Homo sapiens: one gene and its partners. Changing the gene in region 2 together with the main gene of any one other region gives a genetic interaction. Each region holds a gene or a part of one and is shown on either strand. Other genes may lie near its edges.

Region 1 (2,335 bases), on a different chromosome or scaffold from region 2:
GCCTGTAATCCCAGCACTTTGGGAGGCCAAGGCGGGCAGATCACCTGAGGTGAGGAGTTTGAGACCAGCCTGGCCAACATGGCAAAACCCCATCTCTACCAAAATACAAAATTTAATCAGGCACGGTGGTGTGTGCCTGTAGTCCCAGCTACTTGGGAGGCTGAGATAAGAGAATTGCTTGAACCCGGGAGGTGGAGGTTGCAGTGGGCTGAGATCATGCCATTGCATTCCAGCCTGGCTTTGTCTTAAAATAAATAAATAAATAAAAAGGTACCCTTCCCCACCTACCTCCGTCCAGAATTATAAAAGTGTTTTTCCATGGCATTTTTATAGTAGAGTTTTTTAAAAAATACTTTTACATTTAAATCTTTTGATCCATCTAGAATTTGTTTTGGTAAGGTATTGGTCTGACTTTTTTCCCCCTGAGATGGTTATATAGTTGTCCAACATCATTTATTTAATAATACAATAACTGTTTTTGATATGGCACTTTTATCAGATGCTAAATTTCTATATATATTGGGGTTATTTCTAGTCTTCTGTTTCATTGATATATCTGTCATTCGTGTGCCAATACCATGCTGTCTTAATTTGTTTATAGATTTGTAAGTATGCTAATTTCTGATAAGGTATCTTTGATATGTTTTCTTTAGGTGCTGTTTTGTCATGGGTCTGTCTATTATGCAAATAATTAAAGTATTTTTACTTTATTTAGTGACAGATTTAACCATATTATATTTTTCTTTATTAAAATTTTTCATGGAAATTAGGATGAAGTAATGGATTATGGGTACACTGTAATTTACCTAATTATATCTAGTGTGGTATATTTAGTTGCTTCCTATTTTATTATTATAACTAATGCTACAAAGGTTATCTTAGTCATAAAACTCCTACTATGTTTAGGATTATTTACTTAATGTAACAGCATAGAAGTGAAATTTTTGGGTCAGTGATTGTGAACATATTTAAAGCTCAATATTTATTGCCACGTTGCTTTTCAAACAGATCATATTGGTTTAGACTGCTATATATACACACACATATATATATAAATGTTGTATTACAGTTTTATTTTTACTTTATTTTTATTACCTTTTTAGGTTTCTTGTGATCAGCCCTTACTGAAAGAAGGATATAAAAGTGCCCAAAAGCGGGCCCCTCAAGGGGAGGCAACCACAGTCTCTGAATATTTCTTCAATGATATCTTCATTGAAGTGGATGAAACAGAATAAAACAATCTTTTCTCTTTTTCTTTTTTAAATTAGGTCTAGGATTTCCAGAGTCAATTACATCAACAAAACAGTATTTAGAGCAAAATATCACTGTCTTATTTTTCTTTAGGTTGATTTTGAATACTTAATGAGCTTGATTTGAAGCTTTTATAATCAGTGGAAAACATTTCTGAGGTTCCTTTCATTCTGACTGATTCAGCATTTTGCAAATAGCAAGCAATTAAGACTGCTTTCTCAGACAGAAATAACAACTCTTGTTTACATTTTGACTCTTCCTGTGCTAAGCACACATGGACATTTGGGAATGTTGTGGATATATGTCTCTGTATGAATTGCAGTGCAGACAGATTTGGGGGTTAATTGTATCATATTTAACATTTAGCAACTTCTTTTGTGAAGATTTTTTATTTTTAGGGGGAGATGATGAAGGATGAAGGCTTTTTCATTTGCTTCTAAGTACAGTCATGTATCACATAATGAAGTTTAAGTCAATGATGGACCACATATATTACAGTGGTCCCATGCAATTAAAATGGAGATAAATTCCTATCAACTAGTGACATTATAGCCATCATAACACAGTGCATTGCTTTTTTATGTTTAGATATGTTTAGATACACAAATACTTACTATTGTGTTACAACTGCCTACAGTATTCAGCATAGTAACACATTGTAGAGGTTTGTAGCCGAGGAGCAATAGGCTATACCACATAGCCTCAGTCTGTACGGTGTGTAGCAGCCTGTACCATCTCAGTGTTTGTAAGTACACTCTGCGTTGTTTCACACAAGATCACCTAACAAGGCAATTCTTAGAACATGTAGTTAAGGGACACGTGACTATATGTGAAAACAAATTGTCAAACTTCACTTTAGTATGGCAAATGTTAAAGAACTTTTCTATTATCAGCTGTTTGTCTGACTGAAAAATACATATTTTTCTAATTCATGGTGATGTAACATTAGTCCTAATTGAAAAACTAGTATTTAAACATAATTATTTATAAAGATGACACATCAAAGGGCTTATTTATTTTTAAATTTTTTATTTAAAAGGATATTCAGTTTTAGCTATTTTTACCCCTCAGATTGTAGATAAAG
Region 2 (3,500 bases):
GGAAACGAGTGTATTATGCATTTGCCATCACGACCCTCTCTTAAGAAGGGAAGTGAGACTGTAATAAAATTTCAGCATCATTAACACCTGGAGTCTTTAAAATCGGCGGTCAAATTGCAATTCTACTGGTGCATGGTGTTCTTCCATCAACAGACACAGCAAGCTGGCTTTTTTAACCCCTTTTACAGAATCTGGGGTTGTATAAATGAGGTTCTCTGCAGCAGGGTATCACAGTAGAAGATTATGGCCCACCAGATGTCCATCAACAGGAGATGAATAAAGCACAGTTCAGTCATGTACAGCAGTGCTCCCTAGCTGCTCTGAGGAAGGAGGCGGCTTTGTGTGTCTGATGTGAATTGGTCCCCGAGCTACCCTGAGCAATGCTGTGTGCAGGGGGTGTACCCAGTTGGCTTCTTTTAGTTGGGTGAGGGTTTCGTGAGTTTTTACTTTATTGTTCTTGTAACTGTACATATAGGTTTTATACACACTTCTTTTGAGACAGAGTGTCGCTCTGTCACCCAGGCTGGAGTGCAGTGGTGCGATCTTGGCTCACTGCAAGCTCTGCCTCCTGGGTTCACGCCATTCTCCTGCCTCAGCCTCTCCAAGTAGCTGGGACTACAGGCGCCCGCCACCATGCCTGGCTAATTTTTTGTATTTTTAGTAGAGACGGGGTTTCACCGTGGTCTCGATCTCCTGACCTCATGATCTGCCCGCCTCGGCCTCCCAAAGTTCTGGGATTACAAGCGTGAGCCACCGCGCCCAGCCTACACACTTCTATGTGTGTATTACACACACACACACACACACACACACAGAACAAGGTATAGCACAGCGGGAAAGCACCCTAAATAGGATTTAAAAAGGACACACTGACCAGGCACAGTGGCTCACGCCTGCAATCTCAGCACTTTAGGAGGCCGAGGCGGGTGGATCACCTGAGGTCAGGAGTTCAAGACCAACCTAACCAACATGGTGAAACCATGTCTCTACTAAAAATACAAAAATTAGCCGGGCATGGTGGCGCATGCTTGTGGTACCAGCTACCCGGGAGGCTGAGGCAGGACAATGGCTTGAACCTGGGAGGCAGAGGTTGCAGTGAGCTGAGATCATACCACTGCACTCCAGCCTGGGCAACAGAGCAAGACCTTGTCTCCAAAAAAAAAAAAAAAAAGAACACGCTCACAGGTGAGTAAGTCTTCCCCCTACCAAGGCTCTGGGGACTGCCCATCCACGGCTGCTGGAGAGAGACCCTCAAGCCTCCTGATGTGAAGACACAGCTCCCACGTGCAGTGGCCTCACCAAAAGTCAAACTTGATTCTCATGAAGGCTCCAGGTCAGGGTTCCTCAATCTCAGCACTATTGACATTTAGGGCCAAATAAGTTTTTGTTTTTCTGTGCATTATAGGCTGTTAACAGCATCCCATGGCTCCACCCGCCAGATGCCAGCAGCACTCCCAAGTTGTCACAGCCCAAAATGTCTCAAGACACTGCCAAATGTCCCTGGGGCAGCGGGGGGCGGCGCGCAAAACTGTTCCGGATGACAGTCACTGCTACAGATCCAAATACTAATGTACAAAAAGCTCAGATGGCAGAGGAGCATGTTTAAAATAAAATTTTAAGGCTGGGCGCAGTGGCTCACGCCTATAATCCCTGCACTCGGGGAGGCCGAGGCAGGTGGGTCACTTCAGGTTGGGAGTTCAAGACCAGCCTGACCAACATGGAGAAACCCTGTCTCTATTAAAAATAACAAAGTTAGCCGGACGTGGTGGTGCATGCCTGTAATCCCAGCTACTCGGGAGGCTGAGGCAGGAGAATCACTTGAACCCGGGAGGTGGAGGTTGCGGTGCGCCGAGATCATGCCATTGCACTCCAGCCTGGGCAACAAGAGCAAAACTCCATCTCAAAAAATAATAAAATAAAATAAAAATTTAAAAATCCAGAAGGTAGGAAACTGTAAGACAAACAACAAATAAACTACAATGGGAAAAAAAAACAAGAAAAGGGTGAGGAGTATCCATGAAACAACAGGAAATTTAACCACTTGCTAGATGTTTGATATTAAAATAAAAGATTAGGTGTGCTAATGGTATTCTGGTCATTTTTAAAAGTCTCTACTTATAGAGATACAAATTGAAATATTTATGGATATAATGCTATGTATAGTGGGTTAAATGGCAGCCTCCCTCAAAGACGTGTTCGTATCCCAGAACTTGCGAACGTGACCCTATTTGGAAAAAGGTTTTGTAGATGTAATTACGTAATTACGTGAAGGATCTCAAGATGAGATGATCCTGAGTATCTGAGCGCGACCTAAATCCAATGAGAAGCGCCCTTCGAAGAGACACACGGAGGAAAGGCCGAGGGAAGAGGGAGGCAGAGATTGGAGTGACGCAGCCACAAGCCAAGGGAACGCCTGGAGCCGCCAGGAGCAGGAAGAGGCCAGGAATGACCCTCCCCTGAGCCCAGTGAGGAGCACCGCCCTGCCAATACCTTGATCTCGGACTTCTGGCCTCCTAAGCTGGGAAGGAACAAATTTCTATTGTCCTAAGCCCCTCAGTTTGTGGTCATTTGTATGACATCCCCAGGAAACTAGTACAGATTCACTGTATGTGGGATTTGCTTCAAAATGACCCAGAGGTGGGAAAGTGACCAGCAGTGGAGATAATCCAAGATTGACCAGGGGCTGATCAATGTTGGAGCTGGCGATGGGCACATGGGAGTTCATCATACTGTTCTCTTTACTCTTGCAAATGTTTGAATTTCCCTTGCAAATGTTTGAATTTCCCATGACAAACTTTTTTCCTCTATGAAAAAATTAAGGTTGGCTGGGCATGGTGGTTCACGCCTGTAATCCCAGCACTTTGGGAGGCCGAGGCGGGCGGATCACGAGGTCAGGATATCAAGATCATCCTGGCTAACATGATGAAACCCCGCCTCTACTAAAAATACAAAAAAAAAAAAAAAAAATAGCCTGACGTGGTGGCACGCGCCTGTAATCCCAGCTACACAGGAGGCTGAGGCAGGAGAATCACTTGATACCAGGAGAACCCAAGATCATTTCACTGCACTCCAGCCTGGGCAACAGAGCAAGACTCCATCTCAAAAAAAAAAAATTTTTTTAAGGTTTGGTAGAGCCAGAAAAGATGTCGGGGGTGGGGGAACAAAACAAAAAAGAAAAAAAAATTAAATTTAAATTAAAAAAAAAAAAAGAAGAAAAAACAAGGAAAAAAGTTTGACATTCTCCGGAACAGTTCAGTTCAGTTCCTCTGCCATAGTAGCTGCATTTCAAGTGCTCAACAGCAATATGTGGTTAGTGGCTACCGCACTGGACCATGCACTGGAATTTTCCTCATTCCAGAAAGTTCTATTAGTTGCACCACAGAGACACCCTCAGGAGGAGAGAGACCCCCCATCTCTCTCTATGCTGGAGAGCCACTTGCAGACCCTGCCCGAGTGGGGTGTACCTGGCTCTTTTTCTCCTTCTGTTCTAAGATTTTCTG
Region 3 (3,497 bases), on a different chromosome or scaffold from region 2:
TTATACAGCACAAAGCCTAAAATCGGCAGGTATCATCTCCAAATTTTAGTACAATCCAATTTACCTGGATTTATCATATGGGATACAGAGTATCAGAATGGCCTTTGTGTCCCTTATATCCAGTATAATCTAACATGTTTCATGAAGCATCAGCATTTATTACAATGGATGTTTAAACTCAACTGAGAAGTTCTGACTTTTAAAAGTTATTTTGTTCATTTTCAATTGGGAAATTTCCTTTTTAGTCACTTAAAGATGTAGACCCAAGATCACCAAGATGGCTACATTTAAGATGCTATCCAAAGAGTAAACATGTACAAGACAGGAGAATGAGGCTTTATTTTCAAAAATGTCCAGACTCGTTCTTGGATCCATTCTTTCTACTTAATTGCAGGTTGCAAATGAATTCTTACTGCTGAGTATTTTGAATCCAGGGTAGGAGACTTGGCTGTTTTTTCCCATCCATTATTCTGTTCAATATGTCAGAAGGTCTGATTGGGAGGAAACCTTTTCAAGTTCTATTGATGCAGCTTTCAATTGACCACGGTGACCTAGCAACATGAGCACTAATTGGCATGGGCTGACTGGCATTTGGTGTACAGTTTACATGGGAACACAGATTCAACGGCTATTATAACCCAGTTTGCTGTCGCAGATTACTAGTCGAAAGAAATGTTTTAATTGTCTTCAAGTGACTATTTTAACTTTGCAGATGCAAAGCAACAGGTATAATGTACTAAATCATAACTTAATTAAAAACTGTCACATAAACAATGTAGCAAGGATATACCTTCTAAAGGCAATCACCATTTAAGACTTTACTTTCTCCTTAAGGCACTTTCCATAACTTCTATTTTATGGAAGGCACTACAAAGAATAAACAGAGGCAAATGCTCCAGTATACTTGAACATCAGAAGCTTTGGGGCCACTGACCATGTTAGGAGGAATTCAATAAAACTTTAAATTCACTGAAGTGCTGACTAGCTGGTAATCAGTTATAACCATATCAGCATAAGAATTTCACTTCCGAGGTCTTAGGGGAAAAAAGCCCGGCGCTGGGCTCATTGGGTAAAGCATTCTTCTCACAGCTATTCAAGCCTGAATCCATCCTCTCTACCCCCACTCTCCTCCCTTCACTTGGAGCTTGCCTTCTTTTTATTAAAACAACACCAGAGATAATTATTTTTGTGTGATGATTCGAAGAAATGAACTGCTCTCTAAAGAACTCTAGAAAGGCTAAAGTTTTTCTTTACAGTTGGTAGCTGAAACCAGAGCTCTAATAACAATGTGTTATAAGTAATTCAGAATACAATTAAAAATAAGTTTTTATCTCAGAAAGAAAATGCATATGGCTAGGGCTTTTAATTATTTTTCAGGACAATTACTAGCACAAATATATTTTAGCAAGAATGCCTCCATCTGTTTTAGCAAGAAGAGCTCCGTGTGCAGAGATAGGAATGGTCTCTTCCAGTCTCTGCAGGAGTGAAGGGCTAAACTAAGGTTTGTGCTGTAACCAAAGTCTCATCAAAACTGGGCCAATTAATGCAAAACCCACGGGCTAAAAACACAATTCACATCTTAACTGTGATCAGTTTTTCTTTTGAGTCTTACAATAATAAAATTCAATTGAGTTTTAGGAAGATCTGCTGGCATAAATAATATACATTATAAATGCAATTCAAAACTATTTTATGTTCCAAAAACAGGTTAAGAACAAAGCCACAGTTTAAAAACGCAAAGTTCTTTTTGTTTGAATTGATTACTTATAATGTTTTTGACAAATATAATTTTTATGAAAAAAATCATCAATAATTAAAATTAAACAGAAGAACAAAGCAAGGATGTCATGTACTACCTTCTTCTGACTTTTATGACAGAAAGGCCTTTATTTTCAACAAGTTTATCACATGTCTAGACTAATTATATATTTTGCAAATACTTACAAAACTAAAAATTTGCCTAGGAAATTATGTTTTAAAATCTGGGATAGAAGCACAGAAACTGACATATCCTAAATTCTAAAAATTAGCAATTAGGCCAGGCACAGTAACTCAGCCTGTAATCCCGGCACTCCAGGAGGCCGAGGCAGGCAGATCACTTCAGCCCAGGAGTTTGAGACCAGCCTAGGCAACATGGGAAAACCCCGTCTCTACTAAAAATACAAAAATCAGCCAGGCATGGTGGTGTGGGAGCCTGTAGTCCCAGCTACTTGGAAGGCTGAAGCATCAGAATCACTTGAACCTGGATGGCAGAAGCTGCAGTGAGCCAAGATCATGACATTACACTCCAGCCTGGGTGACAGAGTGAGACCTTGTCTCAATCAATAAATCAATAAAAGAAGTTAATAAATAAGGCAACTTATTTGAGCCATTTGGCATCGTAGATAGCAACAATTTTTTTAAGTTTCCAAATTGTTTTGGAAAGTTACTGGAGATGTGAACTACTACCAATTTGAATATTTTAAATGTATGCATATGGTAAAATCGGAGTTTTATTTAAAAGATTTTTCATGATTGAGCTTAACACTCATAGGTAAAAAACTAAATGGCTGCCTTGCAAATGACTGAAAAAGAGGCCTCCATTGACAAGAAGAACCCAAACAATGTGGCAAAACTCAAGTGACAAAGGGAACTCCAATGCTGGGTATCTATTAACTCTAGGCTGTGTCTGTGTTGGGAGGATGTTCCTGTTGTATTTTTAAATCTACTGGATATATGGATTATACATACCATCTTAAAGTAGGAAATTATTCAAGAAATGCAATGTAATAAAAAAAAGACACTCAAAATTCTCTTAATAGGATTCTCAACAAACAGTAGCGTCGTGGAAACATACTGAACTAAGAACTGGTAAAACCTGGTTCTGGAACAAAATGGTATCTTTCTTAAATGTCTGTGATGTAAGACTTTTATGATAGAACTCTATTATGCTCACATTTACCTTTTGCTTTCAGGCATAATTTTAAGTATCTGACTAAAACTAAACCAAAAAACATTCCCACAAAACTTGTCACTAACCTGCTGGGTTCACAAAGTCAGAATAATACTAGTACTTGGCTAGGGTAGAATAAGAACAAAACCTGATGGACAGCAGGGTAAGGGAAGGGACAATGATGATGATCTTAGGAAAACTTTTAATGTGAACAGAGGGGAGGAAAGCTGTTGGGGCCTTAGAAGTGGAAACAGATCCTTTACTTCCTTTGAAGTCCCTACGTCTTTATATTACGCTCAGAGTAAATATTCTGGTAAGTTTTGTTCCAGTGAAAAGTTTCTTGGTAAAGAATGGCACAAAAGAGTGACCTTAGGTAAGCTGCTGAACTTCTCTGTGCCTCACTTTCTTCATTTGCAAAAATGTAAACATAACAGCATCTATTTCAATGCACTGCTAGGAGGAATAAATGAAATCATTCTTATTAAAGGATGTTAACACAGTGTTAACACTTTGTAAGCAGACAAACATTTGCCATTATTATTAGTATGGAAAGTGAGCAATAAGA

Evidence for each region. Genes that interact genetically often act in the same process or in processes that back each other up.
Region 1: changes in DHX37 (region 2) and BDP1 together harm fitness less than expected from each alone (positive genetic interaction), as found in Homo sapiens cells (one large-scale study listed by BioGRID).
Region 3: changes in DHX37 (region 2) and XRN2 together harm fitness more than expected from each alone (negative genetic interaction), as found in Homo sapiens cells (one large-scale study listed by BioGRID).

Annotation. Positions count from the first base shown.
Region 1 is NC_000005.10:71,563,651-71,565,985, forward strand, and holds part of BDP1 (transcription factor TFIIIB component B'' homolog), read left to right. Parts: exon of another isoform or gene 1-1,103; coding exon 1,104-1,235; 3' UTR 1,236-2,335. UniProt on the Homo sapiens protein: General activator of RNA polymerase III transcription. Requires for transcription from all three types of polymerase III promoters. Requires for transcription of genes with internal promoter elements and with promoter elements upstream of the initiation site.
Region 2 is NC_000012.12:124,982,632-124,986,131, forward strand, and holds part of DHX37 (probable ATP-dependent RNA helicase DHX37), read right to left. Parts: coding exon 3,465-3,500; intron 1-3,464. UniProt on the Homo sapiens protein: ATP-binding RNA helicase that plays a role in maturation of the small ribosomal subunit in ribosome biogenesis. Required for the release of the U3 snoRNP from pre-ribosomal particles.
Region 3 is NC_000020.11:21,383,331-21,386,827, reverse strand, and holds part of XRN2 (5'-3' exoribonuclease 2), read right to left. Parts: intron 1-3,497. UniProt on the Homo sapiens protein: Possesses 5'->3' exoribonuclease activity. May promote the termination of transcription by RNA polymerase II.